Regions from separate parts of the Homo sapiens genome. Here all the other regions are linked to region 5. Evidence: fine-mapped expression QTL. A gene starts in region 5. Each other region holds a variant in brackets. All regions are shown on one strand. Distances are between the middles of the regions.

Evidence for each region. PIP is the estimated chance that this variant, and not a neighbour inherited with it, causes the effect.
Region 1: its variant is the best candidate, but not a certain one, in a credible set for the expression of AAK1 in skeletal muscle (GTEx, PIP 0.51).
Region 2: its variant is the best candidate, but not a certain one, in a credible set for the expression of AAK1 in tibial artery (GTEx, PIP 0.55).
Region 3: its variant is the best candidate, but not a certain one, in a credible set for the expression of AAK1 in whole blood (TOPMed, PIP 0.53).
Region 4: its variant is the best candidate, but not a certain one, in a credible set for the expression of AAK1 in thyroid (GTEx, PIP 0.68).
Region 6: its variant is the best candidate, but not a certain one, in a credible set for the expression of AAK1 in nasal epithelium (TOPMed, PIP 0.84).

The regions. Positions count from the first base shown.
Region 1 is chr2:69,474,831-69,478,919 of GRCh38, reverse strand. It overlaps AAK1 (AP2 associated kinase 1), which reads left to right. Exons shown (of 22, transcript NM_014911.5): 21 at 1,930-2,040; 22 at 2,957-4,089. The coding sequence ends at 3,051. Among named protein-coding and RNA genes, the nearest start is that of NFU1, 39 kb to the right of the region's middle. The variant A/TA (reference allele first, on the strand shown) is at 1,716.
Region 2 is chr2:69,443,530-69,447,618 of GRCh38, reverse strand. No RefSeq gene overlaps it. Among named protein-coding and RNA genes, the nearest start is that of NFU1, 8.1 kb to the right of the region's middle. RefSeq lists an enhancer at 2,371-2,927. The variant T/C (reference allele first, on the strand shown) is at 1,880.
Region 3 is chr2:69,667,324-69,671,412 of GRCh38, reverse strand. LOC124906149 (small nucleolar RNA U13) reads right to left here and starts at 4,054; the gene lies at 3,952-4,054. It also overlaps a transcript of ANXA4 not described here. The variant G/T (reference allele first, on the strand shown) is at 1,874.
Region 4 is chr2:69,591,504-69,595,592 of GRCh38, reverse strand. The region is part of intron 2 of AAK1 (AP2 associated kinase 1); the gene reads left to right. It also overlaps the pseudogene RPL36AP16. Among named protein-coding and RNA genes, the nearest start is that of AAK1, 50 kb to the left of the region's middle. The variant T/G (reference allele first, on the strand shown) is at 1,717.
Region 5 is chr2:69,641,450-69,645,538 of GRCh38, reverse strand. AAK1 (AP2 associated kinase 1) reads left to right here and starts at 1,800. Exons shown (of 22, transcript NM_014911.5): 1 at 1,800-1,964; 2 at 2,265-2,661. The coding sequence starts at 2,499. It also overlaps a transcript of ANXA4 not described here. RefSeq lists enhancers at 14-616, 1,372-1,641 and a silencer at 1,722-2,051.
Region 6 is chr2:69,584,761-69,588,849 of GRCh38, reverse strand. All of the region lies in intron 2 of AAK1 (AP2 associated kinase 1), which reads left to right. Among named protein-coding and RNA genes, the nearest start is that of AAK1, 57 kb to the left of the region's middle. The variant C/A (reference allele first, on the strand shown) is at 2,269.

The sequences.
Region 1 (4,089 bases), 170 kb after region 5:
TGTCCTTAGAGGGGAAAGAACTAAACAACTTTTGAAAGTTTTTCTTATCAAAAGTCTTTACTAGTGAAGTTTTAAAACTACCTCCTTGTATGGAAAACTTGAGTATCTCCTAGATACTGTGTTATAATACCTCTCAGTGAGAATATTTACTAAGACTTAGACGACCGGCCAGTTGTGGTAGCTCAGGCCTGCAATCCCAGCACTTTGGGAGGCTGAGGTGGGAGGATCACTTGAGCCTAGGAATTTGAGACCAGCCTGGACAACATACGGAGTCTCAGTCTCTACAAAAAAATTTTTTAATTAGCCAGCCATGGCAGCATGCACCGGTGGTACCAGCTTCTCGGGAGACTGAGGTGGGATGATTGCTTGAGGCCCGGAGGGCAAAGCTGCAGTGAGCCATGATCGCACCACTGCACTCCAGCCTGGGCAGCAGAGCAAGACTCTGTCTAAAAAAACAAAAAAAATAGCAGACAGGTACTAAAAATAAATAAAATTAAATCTGAAAAAAGCCCTAGACAACAGATTGGTGAAAGTATTGCTTTCTGGCAAGAACATAGAATGCAGATATTCCATGTTACCTTTAAGAGCTAGATACCTTTGCAGTCAATTCAAGTAGATGGTTGAAGTGACTATCTACTGCCTGCCTATAATGATCATATGATGCTTGTTGGCCTTAGAATGTAAAATGGTTTTATCATATCTGATTCAAAGTTATTGCATAGTGATGACTGCAATAAAGAAATAAGCATCTTTCCTCAAAAGTCAGTCCTTGCAAGGTTGAACTTGTAGAAGTTTTGAATTTTAGTTCACCTTCAAGTCATGATTGGTTACTGGATTTCTCTTTCTAATCTACTATTTTCATTTTTCAGTCTTGGGTTAATAGTGGTCTGAAATCCTGGACAGAGGTAGCTTGAATCAGATTCTATTCAATGAGCAGTTTGTGACAGTGTCAGGCTCAATGCCTGGCTTACTTTGTTACTGAACTTTCTGTGATTGGGTAGTGAAAGTAGTCTTCTGGAAAGAGAAAATGTGTAGAAAAGAAAGAGCTTAAGTCCCTTCAGGAGAAAATTCAAGAAGGAAGCCTCCCCAGAATGACTAAAAATAATCACCTCTGTGGTTTGCAATGGTAATAGCTGAGTTTTTGTTTTTACCCGTGATGACATTAAAATGATTATGTTTTTATAGATTATGTAGAGGGAAGTTACCTATTTAGACAGTGATGTCTGGCAGGAGTATGTCAGCAGCAATGTAGAATTACAGAGAAGCATCATTTGCAAAATAAGTGCTCAGCCAGCACTTGCTTGCTGTTAGGGTAGCTTTAATTAGAATGGAGAAGACTATTCTAACAAACTTCTACTTGAGGCCTCAGTGCGTGTGATCTTGTGCCTCAGCGTTCCCTGAGGCTTCTGAGTTGTTTCAGTGTCTTTTTTTCCCAGTCACAGTGCAGTGAGTCCTTCCAGCAGTATTTTGTTTGCATTATATACAGTGGTTACTTCTTAAAGAGCCACCAATTCTCTTCCTCCTCCCCTGCCCTGCCCCCAAGCCCCGGTTTTGAGTTTTTCAAATATTGTTTGGCCTCTGTTCCCTCAGTGAAGACAAGTGACTTATTCCTATGCCTTTGTGGATTAGTGACAATGAAGAGATACCTCACAATAATTATAATTAATGTCTTATAAATAATAGAATTCTTCCAAGAACCCTTTTCCCTAATCATT[A/TA]TAAAAGTCAACATGGCCAACTCTAAAGCATTTTTTTCTATATCTCTGTATTTTCCAGTTTTGCTATTTTTATTTCAACTCAGAAAGATAAATCCTTTCACCTTTGAAAATAACAGGGCTGTACAGTTGAGATCTTTGTGCCTCTTTCACATTCTCTCATTTGCTAATCTCTGCCTCTGTTGTTTCTGCTTGTGTACTTGCATTCTGTATTAAGCTGCAGAAGATAGTAATCTCATCTCAGGTTTTGATGTCCCTGAGGGCTCGGACAAGGTGGCTGAAGATGAGTTTGACCCTATTCCTGTATTGATAACCAAAAACCCACAAGGTAAGAAAAAGGATGGGGAAAAGAGAAGAGCTTGGCCTCAGTTCTCTTCAAAATAGTCATGCACCTAATCTGCAAGGGGGAAGAAAAGCATCAACATTTAATGAAGGACATTGGGTGTAATGAGAATCATTGTAGGCTGGACCAATAGAGATAGATAGAGATAGGTATCTTTAAAGTTTGACCGTGGTGTTTATTTAGAGAGAAGTCTTTAACAGTTGGCCAAAAGTTAGTTTTTACCATGAAGCCAAAAGCAAAATGATCTTTAGTCAGTGGAAACCTGAAGGTATATATCAAAAGCACATCACATTTTTTATCATGATTAGAATAATCCATAATAAATATTTTTCCCAAAGAGATTAACAGCTGTGTTTTGGTATCATTCACATCTTTTTGACATTAATGGAGCATCCTTTTTCAACTTTGATGGAGGAAAATCATGTGAACATGCCATAAAACACTAAATTACCATGGGACCATCTATTTATTTTTTAAAGCATGTTCTTATTGCAGTATCTTAATAACTAGTTTCTCCCCAAAGCAAAAATTATTGATTTTTACTTTATCAAAGGGAGATGGCTTGATATTATCAGGAAGTTGGTATATAGCCAGCAATTCTCAACCAAAAAAAGTATTGATTTGAAAATAGTGCCCTCTTTGCAAGATGTCCTACCTATACTGTGGTGTGCACAGAGTGCCTGAGCTTTTGGTGGGAGGTGGTGGACAGCTAACTTACATGTTTCAAAATCAACGTGTAAGGGTTTGCAAATGTAAAATATTGCTTCTCTAGGGTTTGGTTTTTTTGGTTTTTTTTTGTTTTGGTTTTGGTTTTGGTTTGGTTTTTCTTCTTTGCTTGCTCTGCACATCTAAACCTTAACCCTCTATGTTTTGTACTGAATTCCTATCTCTCCACTTCCAGGTGGGCACTCTAGAAACAGCAGTGGGAGCTCTGAGTCCAGTCTTCCCAACCTAGCCAGGTCTTTACTGCTGGTGGATCAGCTCATAGACCTGTAGCCGTGACCCAGTAGCAGATGCAGTTCTGTAACCTTCATACCGTAAAATACATTTTCATTACGGAGTTATGAAAAAAATGATTTTTTTAAAAAAATCTGCAAATAAGGGGCCCTCCAGCCCTTTTCTCCTACCCCTTGCCTTCTCCTGTAGAAATGATAAGGAAAGAAAATCACTTTGGCCCTCCAGATATTCCTTGGCCAGTTCCTCCTTGTTAGTTTGCTGTGTTTTCTCATTACCCTTCTTCAATAGCATTATCTTAAATCAAGCACTAGATGCCATGAGCTTCACCTCTGCTGGAATCAACTCCACCAAAAGCTTAACTGTAACTGAAACTAGTGAATTGACACTTTTGTCTCGTTCTTGCTAGGAATGGCCTCCCAGATCAATTCTCCCAACCCCCGTCTCCTTTGGCCAGATGCTGATGAATGTATTTCCCTGTTTTTGCTTTTTATCCTGATGCATTATCATGAGGACATGGCTACTTCAGTTGGTCTTAACTCTAGGCAGTAGCCTGGAGATGGGTGTGTGGTTTAAGAAAGGGTAAAACTTACTGACTGGTAGTATATATTTGAGAAGAGAAATTGAGCCCAGCTCTAGCCAACCAACTTTGACCTTGTTTGATCATAGACTTAGCCAAGGGATTTTACACCCCATGCAACCTGCCCAGCATTCGTCCAGCTTTCTGGCTTCCATTGAACCGTGATTTCTCAGATCTGGAGACGTGACTGCAAGTATTTGAGATCCTTGGATACAATGTGTACGTTATATAAATCCCAAGTATTGCCATTCCTTTTCATGTTAACTGTTCCAAGTGGGATCTCAGAATTAGACCAAAACAAGACGGTGGTAATATGATACCTTTTATTAGAAGACTTTTCACTGGGGCGGGGGTGGGGGGAGGATGGGGAGGGGAAGGAATTGTAGCAGAAACAGATGTATTTTTCTTGTGATTTTTATTTTGAATCAAATATTGTAAATTGTGTATAAATGAAGATGCTGAATAGTTCTGTTTCCACTTGGCATTTCAAGTCTGATATC
Region 2 (4,089 bases), 200 kb after region 5:
GCCCTCCCCAACCTGCCCAGAAATTTCCTCTTAGAAAGGTGGCTGGAGCTAAAGGCATAGTCAAGGTTAATGCTCCTTTCCTTTATCTGACCTTTCCCAAATCGGTTAGTGTTTAGGCTCTTTTTCATCAAATATAAAAACCCAGCCCAGTTCATGGCCTGTTTGGCAGCAACCCTTAGACTCTTTACAGCCCTAGACACTGAAGGGTCAGAAGGCTGTTTCATTCTAAATATGCATTTTATCACCCAGTCAGCTCCTGTCATTAGAAATAAAGCTCCAAGAATTAAATTCCGGCCCTCAAACCCCAAAACAGGACTTAATTAACCTCACCTTCAAGGTGTACAATAATAGAGTAGAGGCAGCCAAGTAGCAATGTATTTCTGAGTTGCAATTCCTTGCCTCCACTGTGAGGGAAACCCCAGCCACATCTCCAGCACACAAAAACTTCAAAACGCCTGAACCGCAGCAGCCACGTGTTCCTCCAGGACCTCCTCCCCCAGGAGCTTGCTACAAGTGCTGGAAATCTGGCCACTGGGCCAAGGAATGCCCACAGCCCGTTATTCCTCCTTAGCCATGTCCCATCTGTGTGGGACCCCACTGAAAATCGGACTCTTCAACTCACCTGGCAGCCACTCCCAGAGCCCCTGGAACTCTGGCCCAAGGCTCTCTGACTCCTTCCCGGATCTTCTTGGCTTAGCGGCTGAAGACTGATGCTGCCCAATCACCTTGGAAGCCCCCTAGACCATCATGGATGCCAAGCTTCGGGTAACTCTCACAGTGGAAGGTAAGCCCGTCCCCTTCTTAATCAACACGGAGGCTACCCACTCCACATTACCTTCTTTTCATGGGCCTATTTCCCTTGCCCCCATAACTGTTGTGGGTATTGATGGCCAGGCTTCTAAACCTCTTAAACTCCCCAACTCTGGTGCCAACTTGGACAACATTCTTTTATGCACTCTTTTTTAGTTATCCCCACCTGCCCAGTTCCCTTATTAGGCTGAGACATTTTAACTAAATTATCTGCTTCCCTGACTATTCCTAGGCTACAGCCACACCTCATTGCTGCCTTTTCCCCCAGTTCAAAGCCTCCTTCGTGTCTTCCTTTCGTATCTCCCCACCTTAACCCACAATTATAGGATACCTCTACTCCCTCCATGGCAACCGATCTCAAGCCCTTACCATCCCATTAAAACCTAATCACCCTTACCCCGCTCAACGCCAATATCCCATCCCATAGCACACTTTAAAAGGATTAAAGCCTGTTATCACTTGCCTGTTACAGCATGGCCTTTTAAAGCCTATAAACTCTCCTTACAATTCCCCCATTTTACCTGTCCAAAAACCGGACAAGCCTTACAGGTTAGTTCAGGATGCACACTTTATCAACCAAATTGTTTTGCCTATCCACCCTGTAGTGCCCAACCCTTACACTCTTTTGTCCTCAATACCTTCCTCCACAACTCTCTATTCTATTCTTGATCTTAAAGATGCTTTTTTCACTATTCCCCTGCACCCCTTGTCCCAGCCTCTCTTTGCTTTTACCTAGACTGATCCTGACACCTATCAGTCTCAGCAGCTTACCTGGGCTGTACTGCCACAAGGCTCCAGGGACAGCCCTCATTACTTCAGCCAAGCTCTTTCTCATGATTTACTTTCTTTCCATCCCTCCGCTGCTCACCTTATTCAATATATTGATGACCTTCTACTTTGTAGCCCCTCCTTTGAATCTTCTCAACAAGACATCCTCCTGCTCTTTCAACATTTATTCTCCAAAGGATATCGGGTATCCTTCTCCAAAGCTCAAATTTCTTCTCCATCCGTTACCTACCTTGGCATAATTCTTCATAAAAACACACATGCTCTCCCTGCTGATCGTGTC[T/C]GACTGATCTCTCAAACCCTAACACCTTCTACAAAACCACAATTCCTTTCCTTCCTAGGCATGATTGGATACTTTCACCTTTGGATACCTGGTTTTGCCATCCTAACAAAACCATTATATAAACTCACAAAAGGAAACCTAGCTGACCCCATAAATCCTAAATCCTTTCCCCACTCCTCTTTTCATTCCTTGAAGATAGCTTTAGAGACTGCCCCCACGTTAGCTCTCCCTGACTCATCCCAACCCTTTTCATTACACACAGCCAAAGTGCAGGGCTGTGCAGTTGGAATTCTTACACAAGGACCAGGACCATGCCCTATAGCCTTTTTGTCCAAACAACTTGACCTTACTGTTTTAGGCTGGCCATCATGTCTCTGTGCAGTGGCTGCCACCGCCCTAATACTTTTAGAGGCCCTCAAAATCACAAACTATGCTCAACTCACTCTCTACAGTTCTCATAACTTCCAAAATCTATTTTCTTCCTCACACCTGATGCATATACTTTCTGCTGCACTACACTACCTCTCAGCAAGCCAAACTCATTGCCTTAACTCAAGTCCTCACCCTTGCAAAGGAATTATGTGTCAATATTTATACTGACTCTAAATATGCCTTCCATATCCTGCACCACCATGCTGTTACATGAGCTGAAAGAGATTTCCTCACTATGCAAGGGTCCTCCATTATTAATGCCTCTTTAACAAAAACTCTTCTCAAAGCTGCTTTACTTCCAAAGGAGGCTGGAGTCATTCACTGCAAGGGCCATCAAAAGGCATCAGATCCCATTGCTCAGGACAATGCGTATGTTGATAAGGTAGCTTAAAAAGCAGCCATCAAAAGGCATCAGATCCCATTGCTCAGGATGATGCTTATGCTGATAAGGTAGCTAAAAAAGCAGCTAGAGTTCCAACTTCTATCCCTCATGGCAGTTTTTCTCCTTTTCATCTGGCCACTCCCACCTACTCCCCAACTGAAACTTCCACCTATCAATCTTTTCCCACACAAGGCAAATGGTTCTTGGACCAAGGGTCTCCTTCCAGCCTCACAGGCCCATTCTATTCTGTTGTCATTTCATAACCTCTTCCATGTAGGTTACAAGCCGCTAGCCCATCTCTTAGAACCTCTCATTTCCTTTCCATCGTAGAAATCTATCCTCAAGGAAATCACTTCTCAGTGTTCCATCTGCTATTCTACTACTCTTCAGGGATTACTCAGGCCTACATATCAAGCTCGGGGCCACCCAGGACTGGAAAATTGACTTTACTCACATGCCTCAGTGAGGAAACTAAAATACCTCTTGGTCTGGGTAGACACTTTCACTGGGTGGGTAGAGGCCTTTCCCACAGGGTCTGAGAAGGCCACCGCAGTCATTTCTTCCCTTCTGTCAGACATAATTCCTCGGTTTGGCCTTCTCACCTCTATGCAGTCCGATAACGGACTGGCCTTTATTAGTCAAATCACCCAAGCAGTTTTTCAGGCTCTTGGTATTCAGTGAAATCTTTATATCCCTTACCGTCCTCAGTCTTCAGGAAGGGTAGAATGGACTAATGGTCTTTTAAAAACACAACTCACCAAGCTCAGCCACCAACTTAAAAAGGACTGGACAATACTTTTATCACTTGCCTTTCTCAGAATTTGGGCCTGTCCTTGGAATGCTACAGGGTACAGCCCATTTGAGCTCCTGTATAGACGTTCCTTTTTATTAGGCCCCAGTCTCATTCCAGACACCATACCAACTTGGACTGTACCCCAAAAAACTTGTCATCCCTACTATCTTCTGTCTGGTCATACTCATATTCACCATTCTCAACTACACATAAATGCCCTGCTCTTGTTTACAGTGCCGGTTTACACTGTTTCTCCAAGCCATCACAGCTGATATCTCCTGGTGCTATCTCCAAACCGCCACTCTTAACTCCTTCTTAAAGTAAATAAATAATCTTTGCTGGCAGGGCTATGCTGAACCTCCTTGGGCACTCTCTAATTAGATGTACTGGGTCCTCCCAATTCTTAGTCCTTTAATACCTGTTTTTCTCCTTCTCTTATTCCTTTTAGTTTTTTAATTCATGCAAAACCATATCCAGGCCATCACCAATACTTCTATACAACAAATGTTTCTTCTAACAACCCCACAATATCACCCCTTACCACAAAATCTTCCTTCAGCTTAATCTCTCCCACTCTAGATTCCCACGCTGCCCCTAATCCCG
Region 3 (4,089 bases), 26 kb before region 5:
GTCTTGACAGGTCTTTTTTGCATTGCTTTTTCTCTTGTGTTGTTTCTTATTGATTCACAGGAGTTCTTTACATATTCAGGATGCTAAACTTTACTGTTACTAGAGTTGCAGATATTTTGATTGAGTTTTAGCCTGTCATTTTATGCATTTTATGGTATTTTTATAAACAAAAGTTATTGATTTTAATGTAGTCTCAAATTTATCATTTTTTAAAGGTTTGTGCTTTTTGTGTTTTATTTAAGGAATCCTTCTCCACCCCAAAGTCATAAAGCTATTCTACTCATTCTATTATCTAAATATTTAAAACATTTGCTCTTCACATTTTAGGTCCATTCTGAATTGATTATTGATGGTATTCCCTTCTTTTTTTTTTTTTTTTTTTTTTTTGAGATGGAGTCTGACTCTGTCACCCATGCTGGAGTGCAGTGGTGTGATCTTGGCTCACTGCAGCCTTGACCTCCTGGGCTCAAGTGATCCTCCCACCTCAGCTTCCTGAGTAGCTGAGCCTACTGGTGTGCACCATCATGCCTGGCTAAATTTTGTATTTTTGGCAGAGACAGGGGTCTCACTATGTTGCTCAGGCTGGTCTCAAACTCCTTAGCTCAAGCAGTCTGCCCTGTTTCAACCTCCTAGAGTGCTGGGATTACAGGTGTGAGCCATCACGCCTGACCCTGAATTGATTTTTATGATTGATGTAAGGTAAGGGTCCACTTTCATTTTTTCCGTAGATAACCAAATTTTCCAGTACTATTTACTCTTCCCCATGTATATGTCATCTATCAGGTCTCCATTTATCCATAGGTCAATTTCTGGTCTCTCTATTCTGCCAGTTGTCTATCCCTGTGCCCATGCCACATTGTCTTAGTTACTATAGCTTTATAATTAGGGTGACCTTGCTTCAAGTTTACTGTGGACCAGTCGCCATCTCTATTTTAGCATTTGTCTCATTTGTCTTTTTTTTTTTTTTTTTTTTTGAGATTGAGTCTCGCTCTGTCGCCAGGCTGGAGTGCAGTGGTGCGATCTCAGCTCACTGCAACCTCCACCTCCCAGGTTCAAGCAATTCTCCTGCCTCAGCCTCCCAAGTAGCTGGGACTAGAAGTGTGTGCCACTACACCCAGCTAATTTATGTGTTTTTAGTAGAGATGGGGTTTCACCATGTTGGCCAGGATGGTCTTGATCTCTTGACTTCTAGTGATCCACCTGCTTCGACTTCCCAAAATGCTGGGATTACAGGCATGAGCCACCGTGCCTGGCCATTTGTCATTTTTTAGCCACATATTCATAGTTGCTTTATAATATGCTGGAATGATTTTGGTAAACTTTCACTTTGTGCTTCAGTTCCTACCCTGTCTCTAGTGTATAAGACACGTGTGCAGCAAACACAGGTTTGTGACACAAGGTTAAAAGTGGAATATCACTAGTAATGATCAGTACTTTTCCCCCCAACTCTTCCCAGAGGCAAGATAACTATTAAGTCTCTTTCAAGGGCAGTCTGCTGGGCACTTATCAGTAAAATAAGGCAAGGAAGGTGAAGTCTTTACAATCTTGAGTAGCGGTGGGAGAAGTATTAGATGTGCCTGCTCCTGATAACTATTTGGTATACAAGACAGTAGGATGAGGCCAGCCAGGCAACAGAGTCAGTGGGAAACATGAGAAATTCTAGATTAGATTATATAAACTATGTGCAGGAAATAAAGGCTGAACAGTCCTGCAATAAAGAATATAGAAGGTACATGGACACTCTTGTTACAGTGGTTTTGGTATTTATTGTATGGTAAAATCTATGATTCTTTTTTTTTTTTGAGATGGAGTCTCACTCTGTCGCCCAGGCTAGAGTGCAGTGGCGCGATCTCGGCTCATTGCAACCTCTGCC[G/T]CCTGGGTTCAAGCAATTCTCCTGCCTCAGCTTCCCAAGTAGCTGGGATTACAGGTGTGTACTACCATGCCTGGCTAATTTTTTGTATTTTTAGTAGAGACAAGGATTCATCATGTTGGCCAGGCTGGTCTCAAACTCCTGACCTCCAGTGATCTGCCCACCTCTGCCTCCCAAAGTGTTGGGATTGCAGGCGTGAGCCACTGCGCCCGGCCTTATGATTCTTTATAAACAAAAATTTGTTTGGTTACACCCTTATACTGGTAATAAATTGTTTGACAAAAATGGGCTCAAAGAAGGCCAGGCGCAGTGGCTTAGGCCTGTAATCCCAGTGCTTTGGGAGGCCGAGGCGGGTGGATCACCTGAGGTCAGGAGTTTGAGACCAGCCTGGCCAAAATGGTGAAACCCCATCTCTACTAAAAATACAAAAATTAGCCAGATTAGCCGGCGTGGTGGCACACACCTGTAATCCCAGCTACTCGGGAGGCTGAGGCAGGAGAATCACTTGAACCTGAGAGGCGGAGGTTGCAGTGAGGCGAGATCGCACCACTGCACTGCAGCCTGGGTGATAGAGCGAGACTCTGCCTTCAAGAAAAAAAAAAAAAGGCTCAAAAGGAATGGAAATAAAGTATATGTTTAAATAAATAATTTTAATTTCTCAAGAAAATACATGATGACTATATAACATTTGTGTGTCAGCGTTTACCATCTTGTGGGACATGTGGTAATATTACTGACCACGTGAATACCAGAAGGCAAGCCTGCTGCAGAAGCCAAAGTGTCTCATTCCACAGACAGGAGTTATACACAGCGTAATATGGCTGTGCCTGAAGACAATGAATTTCCACATGCAGAAGGTGAGTTTTACATATCACTCAGTGAAACCTAACTTCATCAAGATGAAATGACGGTTCTAAATTAATATTTTTTATTATACACATACATGTATGTGTCTATACATATATAATGAGAAAGATATATATGTGTATATTTACCTATACACAAATGTAGAGAGAAATACCTGGAAGACTGTATCTCAAGAGTGATTGTCTCTAGGAAAGGGACAATTCATACTTTTTTTAAAAAAATTTTTTGTAGAGACAGGGTCTCACTATGTTGCCCCAGGCTGGTCTTAACTCCTGGGCTCAAGCAATCCTCCCACCTCAGCCTCCTAAAGTGCTGGGATTACAGGCATGAGCCACCATGCCGTATATCATACTTCTTTGTCTTCATTTAGCTTGTCTATGTTCTCTGACTCATTCCTTATACTTCTGTAATAACAAATAAAAATAGAAAAAAATTTCACTTGGAGGGGAAATGACTGAATTCATAATCTTTAGTAAACAACCTAGAGTTTATAAAACAGATAAGCATGGACTTATAAACCGGTCCATGCATAGTATTAATGGCCCCAATTAAAGGCTACCCGGCTCCACACTCTTTGCCTTGTAATTTTATTGTCCCTTCCTCCTGTTACTGAACATTCCTCTGGTAACATACTTAGGCCAATGGAATGTTATCAGACATGAGACGAGCAGGGACTTGAAAAGCACCTGTGCATTTCTGCATGCTCACTAGTGCATCTCTGCCTCAGCATGACGGCTTGTCCCGGCTAGCCCAATGGAGGAATGCAAAGACACATGGAGAAAAGCAGAGACCATCCTAGTCCCACAAATTCCAGTCAACCCCCAATACACAAGAGAGCCCAGCCAAGATCAACTGCTGATTCCGGGTGCAGCAGCAAGTCCCATCTAAGCAGGAAGAATGGCTCAGCTGCCATGGCCTTGGGAGCAATAAAAATGAGTCTTCAGGTGCTTTGTTACCCACATTGTTGGGTCAATAGATAACTGATAATAAAGAATAGATCACATGCTATGTGGAGAGGAGAAGAAAAGGACAAAAGAGACAAAAAAGAGAGAGAAGAACTGACATAAATGTTGCCACAGCATCCCCATACATCACATCACAGGATATCCTGTCCAGTTCTCTACAGATAGGCCAGAGTATTTTGTACATCGGACTGAATCAGTCTATAACACTTTTATGGGACTTTTATTTTTCTTTCCTTTTTTTTTTTTTCAGGTCAGATGGGTAATGTGCCGAGGTCATAACAAGGTTTGAGTGTGGCACATCTCACACATGTGCGTGAATACCAATCATTATGCCCATGAACTACAAAAGGATCTCTTTCTTTTTTTCAATAGCTTTGTCGAGGTATT
Region 4 (4,089 bases), 50 kb after region 5:
AACTTCTTCTGGAGCTTTCTTACCTCCCCAGCCTTCATAGAATTGAGGAGAGTTAGTGGTGCCTAGCTCTAGATTAGACTTTGGCGTAAGGGAATGTTTTGGCAGGTTTGTTCTTATATCCAGCACACTAAAACTTTATCCATATCATTCATGTAGCACTTCAAATTTCCTTCAAGAGGTTGGGTGCAGTGGCTCACGCCTGTAATCCCAACACTTTGGGAGGCCGAGGTGGACGGATCACTTGAGGTCATGAGTTCGAGACCAGCCTAGCCAACTTGGTGAAACCCCGTCTCTACTAAAAATACAAAAACAACTAGCCAGGTGTGGTGGTGCGTGCCTGTAATCCCAGCTACTCAGGAGGCTGAGGCAGGAGAATCGCTTGAACCTGGGAAGCAGAGGTTGCAGTGAGCCAAGATCACACCACTGCACTCCAGCCTGGGCAACAGAGTGAAACTCCATCTCAAAAACAAACAAAACAAAACAAAAAAGAAACAAAATCCTAGCTTTTTCCATGCTGATAGTGCTCACGCAAACATGGTGAACGTTCCTAAAACCCGCTGGACTTGTGTCAGAAGTGTGGCAAGCACCAACCCCACAAAGTGACACAGTAAAAAGGGCAAGGATTCTCTGTATGCCCAGGGAAAGTGGCGTTATGACAGGAAGCAGAGTGGCTGTAGTGGGCAAACTAAGCCGATTTTCTGGAAAAAGGCTAAAACTACAAAGAAGATTGTGCTAAGGCTTGAGTGCGTTGAGCCCAACTGCAGGTCTAAGAGAATGCTGGCTATTAAAAGAGGCAAGCATTCTGAACTGGGAGGAGGTAAGAAGAGAAAGGGCTAAGTGATCCAGTTCTAAGTGTTACCTTTTCTTTTATTATGAAGACAATAAAACCTTGAGTTTATATTCACTTAAAAAAAATTCCTTCAAGAACATTTTCTTTGCATTCACAACCTGGCTAACTGTTTGGTACAAGAGGCCTCACTTTCGGCCTGTGGTAATTAGACATAGTAGTGTTCTATTTCTTCAGTAGCCACATTCCTGGCAGTAGTAACCATGAAAACATGGCTCTCTGCTATGGTATTACCACACACCTCTGTCATGTGGTTAAGTATAAAGCACTGAATTGTAAATCATTTATTTTGAAATTCATTCATATAAACAAATAAGTTCAAAGTTATCCTCACGATAACATGACTGTCCTTCAAATTTTGATACGTTTTCTTGAGTGCAAAGAATGATGTGGAGGTACAGCTCTTACCCTAAGGGGCTACACACGATCCACAGGATCCTCCTACTTGAACTAGAGCCCTTATGTGGGTGCCAGATGTCCATGGGCATATGTCTTATTTTTGAATGTCTTTGGATATATGTGTTATGGTGGAGAGAGTTGAACAATTGTGCTAAAACCTAGCTTTGAATTTAGAGATATACCACTACCTCCCCTCCCCTTCCCAAAGAAAAATCTGGGGGCAGTAGAAATTGCTCACAAAAGCGGATTCCAACTTGTACCTTAGGAGAGACCCTGTCCCCTCCCTCAGTCTTTTTATTCTTTCTTGTTTTTATTAATGAGTTCTTATACTTTTGATTTACTGTTGAATTAAAAGCAATACATTAAAATGGAGAAGGACGCCAACCTGACAGTAGAGAACAATGGCAAGAGCCGCTAAGGTCAAAGACAGAAATGTTAAAGCTGGCAGAGGAGTTAAAAGGATTACAGTC[T/G]GGAGCTACCTAATGAGTGAGGGAAGTAGCATTGTACACTCTAGTAGCCTCTGAGGCATCCCAGCATTGAGTGAGAAACAGGTAATAAATGTTTGTGATGATTTCTCCAGTTAACTAGAAAAGGTGGAATTTTATCCAGTATACAGTTTGGAGCACTGAGATGTAAATAGTAGCTTATCTTGACAAATTTTACTGCAACTAATTCACATTAATTATAAATATTTAGAAACATGAAAGAAAAGATATATAAAACAACTCATATCACCCATAGATTTAATTACTTTTAGCACATTAGTATGGTATTTAGCTCTTCAGCCCTTTTCTATGTATAAAGATAGTATATAATAAGATATATTTGCATATTATATAAAATACATGTTATATAATATATATACCAAATTTATGTGTGAGAACATGAAGCCTGCTTTTTTATTTAAAAAAAATTTACTTGTGGTAAAAATACACAATAAAAAGTATACCCTCTTAACCATTTTGTAAAGCCTGTTTTTTTAAACTCAATAATATGTTGTGAACATTTTTCCATATCACTGAGTATAGATGTTTATTTTAAGGCTGCATGGATATACCATAATCTAGTTAGTCAATTTCCTAGTGCTAAATATTTAGGTTTCCAACTTTGGTTATTAACACTGCATAAAGCATCTTTAAATATATATACTTCTACATTTCATCAGAGTCCCAAAATAATTGTTGGATCAATGGATGTCTACTTTCTGAATGCTTCCAATGTATCTTATCAAAGCACACTTCTGTTTCACTATATTCTTGCCAATATTTGATGTTATAATTCTTTTAAATTAATGTTTATGTAATTTAGTCTTTAATACTAAAAATGCAAGCAGCAGTGGAAACTAAAGTCAATGAGAAAATGCATTTTAGGGAATGTGACGCATGAAGTTATTCAGGCTTATAAACTAGCAAACCACTGGTTCTGTAAGAGAAGAACTTAACACAGCAACTATTTAGAACACAGGCATGATGAGCCTTAAGACACTCACTTGTTCATGGAGTGTACAAAATTCATGTAAGTCTTCATGAATGTGAAGAAATGCCTCATAATTTGAAGAAGAGATGTTAAATGAGTCCAATTATCATAAGCCAAATCTGTGAATCTCAGGGTAGAACTGTGAATCTCAGGGTAGAACTTTATTGAATTTTGTGTAACATTTTTGATGTTGAAACTTTTTTTCACTTGCCACTAACTTTGTGGGTTTTGTTTTATTTGCCACAGAGAAGTTTCACATTTTAATGAGGAAGAAATGAATCAAATTTTTGGTTACTCTTTTCATGTTATGTTTATAGAAAACCATCTCTACCTCCAAAGTTATAGTACAGTTGTAATTTTCTTTTAGCAGTTTTACAGTTTTATTTTTGACACTTAAGTCAGAAGTTGCAAACATTTTTATTGAATAGACCGCTGTTGTGGGGGGCTGTCCTGTGCATTATTAGGATGTTGGCATCCCTTGACCTCTGCCCACTTGATGCCAGCAGCACCCCTTGTCTCCCCAGTTGTGACAACTGGAAATGTCTCCAGATATTGCCAGTTGCCCTCTTTGGGCCAAAACTACCCTCTCTTGAGAAGCAGTGGTATGATAAACCTTAAAGTGAGTTGAGGCAGTACCCAATAAGAAACACTGGCAGGACAAGAGACCAGTCATTGGCTGAGTGGAATACTCAGGTCGACTATTTCTTGAAAATTGTATTCTAGTCTAGAGATTGGAGATACTGGGAATTTGGAGCGGTCTTCCTTTTGTTGCAGTTTTGGATTCCAAACTGCAATGAAAGATCTTGGTTCTTCTGCTTCACTTCCTCATTTGCTCTTATTGACCTCTCTGTGGACTAGGAGAACCAGGAGAGGGTAACTGGGAGTTATTAATAAAAGTGTTAGGAAAATTGTCAGCAGATGCCTTGGTGACATCTTGTTCCAACTTTCCAATTTAAGCTCCATTAAACTGGCTGTGGTCTTTGTGGTTTGAAATATAGAACAGGCCAGGCGCAGTGGCTCACGCCTGTAATCCCAGCACTTTGGGAGGCTGAGGCGGGCGGATCACGAGGTCAGGAGTTTGAGACCAGCCTGACCAAAATGATGAAACCCCGTCTCTGCTAAAAATACAAAAATTAGCCAGGCGTGGCGGTGGGCACCTGTAATCCCAGCTACTCAGGAGGCTGAGGCAGGAGAATCGCCTGAACCTGGGAGGCAGAGGTTGTAGTGAGCCGAGATTGCGCCACTGCACTCCAGCCTGGGAGGCAGAGGTTGCAGTGAGCCGAGATCACGCCACTGCACTCCAGCCTGGGAGACAGAGCGAGACTCCCTCTCAAAAAAAAAAAAAAAGAAAAAGAAAAAAAGAAAAA
Region 5 (4,089 bases):
CCTAGCACAGCTTGTTTAAAAAAGTCAGTCAAGACAAATAAGTGCTGAGAGAAATGGGGGTCAATGAGTCTAATTCCAAATGAGCTTTCTCATCTATTTTAAGATCTGCTTCAAACTTCCTCAGACAAAAATCTGGCCTTTTAAGGAAAGTGCAGAGAACATGCCTTCGTGGGCTTAGTTTGAGGGAATAGGGGCTGCATTTCACCCTGGAGGTGGCTACATGAATTCGTGAACTGAGGTGACAACACTGACTCTCTCCGGAAGAAAAGATGCTATCTCTTCACGGAGTTTAATTACAATGGCACTACTTGAAACAAGCTGCAGCAGCAGCAACAACAAACGCTACTGTTAACCCAGTCACAGCTCAGCTCAATATTCAGATTAGAGAAAGCAAGAACCATTTTTTTCCCTGGGACACCCTTCTCTACTCAAATACCCGCTGAAAAAAAAATTCTGAGACAAGCACTAGGGAGTGGGGAAAGCGGGCAGAGATGAACAATAACCCATATTCAGGGGTTAGAAAAATAATATTAATAAATCATGGTAGGTTTTTTTGTTTGTTTTTGGCAGCAACTTGCCACTCTTCAGCATCATCCATCAGGAAATCTAGGTCGGAAAAGTGTACCAACTGACCTTCCAAATTTTCTGCATTTGGCAGATGCAAATCACACAGTCCATCCCCGCCCTCAGCACTTGGACGGTATCAGGGAAACGTAAGTATCAATGGAAGAATCTTGAAGTGAAAAATAAATAACTGGTCAGGTTAGGGTTAGTGTTCTTGTGTGCAAGGGAGCTAGTGAAGTTTAGGCTTTGATGCGCACCCACAGCGTCAGCAAAGGAGGAGGAATTAAGGGACAGCATGGGCCGAAAAGCCCCCGAGTTTTGAGGTCAAGCCAACGGGCTGGGTCTCCGGTATCCTAGGATCTGCCCTGCACACAACCTTTGGCAGTTTCTCGGTTTGAATCTCGCCTGTACATTTCCAGACGAGACACTGTCTTACTGAGCGTTCTCACAGCGCCTAGCTCAGAGCTGACCGCAGAGCCGGCTCTCAATAACATCGAGACGCAAAAGCAGCTTTTGAGGTTAGGGGCGGAAGGGCATCGGTTTTACTTATTTCAAGGCTGGCGCTCGGTGCAGCCGGATCCAACTGCCAGCACAATGTTCCCGATCACTTCTCGCTTCCATTTCAGCCCAGGAGACGTCGGGAAACCCACAGGACCCGCTAGGGGCTAAGCGGTTAAGCCGCGTCCTTCAGGTGTCAGTCTCGATCCGTTCGGAAACCACAACCTCCAGAATCCCTTGTGCCAGGAGGCCAGGCCGCAAATAAGATGGCTCCAGAAGGGTGGAACATACAGCGGGGGGGGGGGGGGGGGAACTTAGTTGTTGGCAGTTTCTTCACGGGATGTGTTTAAATTGCCGAGTCCCCACATACGCGCCACCCCACAAATCTCCTTCGAGGCCGTGGAGGCCACACGGCTGCCGCCTCGCCCTCTCCTCCAGGAGTATGCTGGGATTTGTAGTCCAGCAGCCGGACTGTGCCGAGCTACCTTTCCCAGCTTGCCCTGCGGCTCGGGTGATATCAACAGTCTTTTCCAGAACTCTGTCTGCACTGAGACCCTCTTCCCCCAGTCCTCTTCTCGCGGTCGACTCCTTCCCATCCGTGGCGACAGAACGGCGGTTGCAGGAGAGGCCCCGGTCCCTCGCCGCGCCGCCCCGAGGGGCACTTCCGGCGGCGGTTCACTTCCTGGTTGGGTGGATGGAGCCGGGCGGGAGCGCGCGCGGGGGAGGGGCGGCGGGTCAGTCTCCGCCCGGCGCTCCCGGGATCAGCTGGCGGGCGGGCGGGAGCCGAGCGCGGCCCCGGCTCTCGCTGCAGCGCCGCCTCTTCTCTGCGTCGCAGGCCGGCCCGGCGGCCGTGACAATGTCGCGGGGCTGGTAGCAGGGCGCCGGCCGCCGAGCCGTCTCAAGTGGGTGCTGCCAGGATGCCGCCTCGAGGGGCGGCGGGGAGACCCGGGAGGAGCGGGAGGCAGTGCCCGGGAGGGTCGGCGCTGCCGGAGCAGCTCGGATCCCTCCTTTCTCCGAGCTCCCGGCTCGGGGGTCCCGGGTTCTGGGGCCGGGGTCGCGTTTTCAGCCCCACGGTTTTTCTCGCCGGGAAAATACATGAAGCGTTTCCCCAGGATGATGGCTTTTGCTCCCCCTAGGACTCAGCGGTTGAATTTTTAAGCGTGTTACTGATTCATCCTCTCTTTCTTCCTCTGTCATCACAGGTTTAAACTTACACGAATCGCTTTCTGGAGGAGGAGGGGACCCGCTGCGCGATTGACACGCATATTCCTATAGGCATCCTCCCTCAGCCCCCACCCCCACGGCCGGATTCGGGTGGCTCCTCTCCGAGGTGAAATCTGAGAAGAAATCCTTGGATCTCTTTTCTTAAAAAAAAAAAAAAAAAAAAAAAATCTAGAAACCATCGGTATTTTGCTTTGCTGCTCCCTATTCGCAAGATGAAGAAGTTTTTCGACTCCCGGCGAGAGCAGGGCGGCTCTGGCCTGGGCTCCGGCTCCAGCGGAGGAGGGGGCAGCACCTCGGGCCTGGGCAGTGGCTACATCGGAAGAGTCTTCGGCATCGGGCGACAGCAGGTCACAGTGGACGAGGTGTTGGCGGAAGGTACGGTGGGGCTCAATGCGCCGTAAATTAAAATCTTGTGCTGATGCGGCAATACTGTGGTTTCTAGTTGTTGCATGTATGAATGGGCTTTGACCAGTTGACCCTCCCTTCCCCCTTCACTTGCCCTGTGAGTCATTGTCCTTGAGAGATTTAAAATTGAGATTTGAAAGTGACTGGGCTTATGGGGGTGTGGGGAGGTTGCCGAAATTGTTTACGTTAGTGGCCTTTTATTTTTATTTTTTTAATATTGAGAAGCCAAATTTTGAGGATCACACAAGAAAACGTATGTGTGAAAGTGTAAAGCTTTATGCCAAAGGCAGGGTGATGGGCTTGTCATCCTCCTAAAACTTAAAATCTTGATGTGAAGGCTGAAGGGTGGGGGGACTTTTAAGAAGAGAGGGGTTTCTCCTTCTCCTACCCAACTTTCCCACTTCCATGAGCAGGCATTGGAAGGAAGAGAGGATTTTCGGAGAACGTGAACGTGTTTTTCCAAGGGCCAAGGCTCTTGGTGGATTTCACTAGTAGATTTGTTTCCTGACCCAACTGTAATCAGGTCCCCAGGTTATAGCAAAGATAACAGAAATTACATAAAACAAATGTGGTTATTTTGAACTCAGTCTAGTAGGCCCCTCTTCCTTCTCGCTTTAGGTTTTGTTTTTTGTTTTTTTAATCAAAAGAAAAATTACTTGAGAGTGGCTCTGATTTTGTTTTTTCGCTATCAGAGAGGATGTTATTTAGATCTGCTGCATAAATTCCCTCTGTGTTTCATCTGTGTGTCTATACTCACGTAGATATACATCTTGATTCCCCCAGGCTTTCGGGAAATCTTTGCATGTCTCTTTTGGTAACCTTAACCTCGACCTTCATAATTATGCCAGACTCATACTTTTCACAGCCCTTCGCCTGCCTAGTGTGCTTTTATTTTTAATAAAAGCAGCAATTTCCTTGGCATGAAGCAATTCAGACTGATTGGATGGGGCCAACCTGCTGTAGGTTGTGTTATAGACCGAGAGGGGTTGGAAGAAGGGAGAGGTCTCTCTTACTGCAACATGGTGATGGTAGGGAACAGTTTTATTAGCAAGGGAAGAGAGAAAGCTAAGAGGCCTCTTTAAAAAGGGGCCTTTTGCAAGCTAAAGTTGAAGCAAGGGTCCTGACCTGGGCCTGGGAAATGCTTACCATGGTGGATGTTGCGGGCTGGTGGGTGGGTTTGGAAGAGGAAGAAGCTGTGTTTGGCTCTCAGCTTGTGTAAGCACTGGATTCAGCAGGGCCCAGTTTTCTGGGAATAGAGTTGAAGTCTGTACTTTAAAAACATGATTTTTAAAAAAGATCTCTGACAGTTAATGTCCATGTGAAATTATTGCTCTTCCAATCTCAGTACTGTTCTAGCTGCGCTTTATCTGGGGCCAGAGTCACTGTCCCCTTGGATCT
Region 6 (4,089 bases), 57 kb after region 5:
TACATAATGTACTGGGATAGTCCTAACAATAGTAAACCTTGATCCACAGATCACATGTGCCATTGGATAAAAATAAATAATGCAGAGGAACTCAATAAGACCAGCCTGTTTAAAGGAGACATCATAAAAACCTCCATTAAAAAAAGAAAAAAAAAATCATGTAGCTGTGGTAGCAAGTATAAAACAAATGTAAGAACTGAGGAGTAACAAAATGATGCAATTAGCTTAGCACCCACAGATGGTTTCAGATACACTCAGATGTCACAGGCATCCAGGACTAGGCCTGCTTTGATCATTTGGAGGGCAGGATTTCTGGATACCTGCGTCACCTGTAGCCATCTACTGCTGAAACAAACCGTTATAACAGAGAGGGAGTTCTTAGTTAAGGGAATGGGTTTACTCTTCTTTCTTACTATAAGGGATGGGGAAACTGATGTCCGTGACAAATACTGAAAGTGGAGCATGTCCTATATCAGCAAAAGTTCCCATAACTAGAGTTTTTCTGAAGGTGCAGGTGATGTCAGGTACCCACCTGATGGGCCTTACTTAGGAAAGAAGGGGGTGGAGGAGACAGGGATGAACATTTGTTAAGAGCTTCTGTGTTTAGATGTGTGCCGGGTGCTTTATGATGCTGTCTCACATAATCTTCACAATAACCTCTGTGGAACAGGGGATGGTTGCTCATGTTATATGTGAACTCAGGTCACGTTACTATGGAGTGTTGGCTGTGGGATTTGAACCCTTATCTAACTCCAAAGTCTTGCTCCTTAGAAATGAAGCAGGTTTGGCTGGGCATGGTAGCTCATGCCTGTAATCCCAGCACTTTAGGGAGGCTGAGGTAGGAGGATCGCTTGAGGCCAGGGGTTCAAGACCAGCCTGGACAACATAGTGAGACCTTGTCTCTACAAAAAATTTAAAAAAAAGAAAAAAGAAATGAGGCCTGGCATGGTGGCTTATGCTTGTAACTCCCAACATTTTGGGAGGCCAAGGTAGGAAGATCACTTGAGCCCAGGAGTTCAAGACCAGCCTGAGCAACATAGTAAAACTCTGTCTCTACAAAAAAATTTAAAAATATTAGCTGGGCAACTGGGTGCAGTGGCTTACACCTGTAATCTCAGCACTTTGGGAGGCTGAGGCAGGTGGATCACCTGAGGTCAGGAGTTCAAGACCAGTCTGGCTAACATGGCGAAACCCAGTCTCTACTAAAAATACAAAAATTAGCTGGGCATGGTGGCATGCCCCTGTAATACCAGCTACTTGGGAGGCTGAGACAGGAGAATCACTTGAACCCAAGAGGCGGAGGTTGCAGTGAGCCGAGATCCCGCCACTGCACTCCAGCCTGGGCAACAAGAGCGAAACGACATCAAAAAAATATATATATATATATACACACACATATATACATATACACATATGTATATATATGTGTATATATACACATGTGTATATATGTACACACGTGTGTGTATATATGTGTGTGTACACGCATATGTGTATATATGTGTGTGTGCACGCATATGTGTATATATGTGCGTATATATACATGCGTATATACGTGTGTATACATGTGTGTATATATACACATGTGTATATATATATAAGCTGAGCATGGTGGCAAGCCCCTGTAGTCCTAGCTATTCGAGAGGCTGAGATGGAAGGATTGCTTGAGCCCAGGAGGTCGAGGCTGCAGCGAGCTGTCAGCATGCCATCGTACTCCAGCCTGGGCAACAGAACAAGACCCTGTCTTTAAAAAAAAAAAAGTTTTTTTTTAAAGAAAAGAAATGAGGCAGGTTTGCTTTAGAAAATGAAAGCTGCTGATTTGGGCAGAAAGGCAGAAGATATGGAAGAAGGACCCAGCCTCAAGTCCCTTGTTCCTTGAAGATTAGAAGATTACTGCATTTGAAAGCATGGTGCATTGGTTCTCACAGCTAACTGCCTATTAGGCTCACCTGTGCAGATTTTACCCTCCGCCCGACCCAAACCCACCACCCTAAGGATTTTGAATCTCAGTATGTTCCAGCTGGGAAACTGGAGAATTATCTTTTTAAAAACTTCCAAGGTGATTCTGATGTGCTGTTAGAATTGAGAAACTTTTCTGTGTCTAAAGAACAATGGAATGAATGTGAGCCCGGGAGTGGCCCTAGGGATAATCTTTCCAACTCTTTTGTGATATAGGAGAGAAAACTAAGGCCCAGAGATCTCAGAAGCCAGACACTCCTTCATTCAGTAGTTACCGAGCATTGACTTTGTTATTCTAGGTGATTCAGA[C/A]AATGCAAAGAAAAATACTTTCCTTGTCTTTGAAGAGTTTTTAGCCTAAGATCACATAGCTGGTTAATGCAGAGCCACAATTGGAACCCAGGTTTCCTGACGTCTTTTGTGTTTTTAAGCCTTTTGAATATTGTCATTGCCAGGCCCTCTTTGAGCTCCTGAAGCTCTGTAAATGGTTCCTCAACACTGTGGTAAGTTGCCTCCAAAGCCCATGGTTACCTTGTGCCAAAAGTCCCCTGCCTGCCTTTCTGCCTCATTACCAGCCTGGTATTCAACCACCCACTTTGCCTTAGGTTCATAGGCCCACAGGTTTTCAGTTGACTGCTTTGTTCTCAGTTCATTTTTAAGCATCTCACCTGGAAAAGGCCTGAAAAAGCTGCATAATGATTATTTTAGAAATGCAGTGCTTAGACAAAACCTGCCCCACTGGTGGTCACCCTGATCTCTTTGCTATTCTTTTTAATGAGTTCATAATCCTCCGGTTCATCTCACAGTGTTCTTGTAGACTGCATATTTTTCGGAGTTTTTCCCAGACCCCTTGGGGCAGTGACGTGCGGAGGGCAGGGAGCACTCCGCACCAATCAGGCAGAGGGTGGTGCCAGAGGGAAGGTGGAGGGAAGAGTTGTTTGCCCAGCACTGTGCTAGGCCAATTTTTGTATATTTTTTTCTTTAGTGCTTTTCAATAGCTTTGGGGGAGAAAGTTTCCACATCTGTAAAATATGGATAATAACTGAGGCTTAAAGAAGTTAAGTAACTTTCTCAAGTTTATGTAAACAAGTTTCATTGCTAGAAATCAAACCCTGGAAACTACTGACTGAAAGGTCATCCTCTTTTCCTAGTACCATATGCCACATCATATGTAAAACTTTTGATCTAGTCCAAACATACTTTTTGGGTAAGTGATTCTTAAATTTGGTTTCTGGTATTTTTCAGTAGGTTTTAGAACTCAAGGCTGCCTTTAACGATGCAGGAGAGATACAGGACTTTGGACAGGACTCTGGAGAGGAGGGTAGCGTTAGGTATTGGAGTCTGAGAATTGCAGTGATGACAGGCACCAAGCTCCTAGGCCAGCCCATTGGAACCAGGGGCCAACATAACTACTGTCCCAGTCCAGGGTCAGAACTTGGAAAACTCAGTGCCGAAGCATAAATGTTAACCAGAGGTCCTTGGGGAGTTGGGGTGGTGTGGGGACATGGACCTCTAGCTTAAGAATATCTCCTGGCTGGGCGCAGTGGCTCACACCTGTAGTCCCAATACTTTGGGAGGCCGGGCCAGGAGGATTGCTTGAAGCCAGGGATTTGAAACCAGCCTGGGCAACAAAGTGAGACCCCATCTCTACAAAAAATTAATTTAAAAAAGAATATCTCTTATATGTTATGCCAATTGGAGATTATAGATCTCTCCTTTTCATAGAATAGTCTCTTCTTATAATCCTCGATTAAAGCTTGAATTTTTATGTAGTTTTTTTGGATAACACTTATCTGGACCTCAGTTTTTGAATCTACAAAATGATAATTTGGGTTTATTGTGATGAGGAAATGGGAACATGTATGTAGATGACTTTTCTTCACTGTAGACTATTCATACAGATATGAGATGGGTATGAGACCCAGGATCCCTAAAAACAGATTGGTAAGAAAGGCAGTGTAGTTGTTGGGCAAAGGGAACAGTGATTTTTAGAGTGTGGAAAGCTCTAGGAGAAGGAGGGAGACCAGAGTGGGGATGCTGCACTGGAAGTGAGGTGGAAGGCTTTAGATTTCCTGGTGAGTAATCGAGGTCTCTGAGTGCCTGGGGTTGAAGGTTGAGGGAGTTCAAAGACTT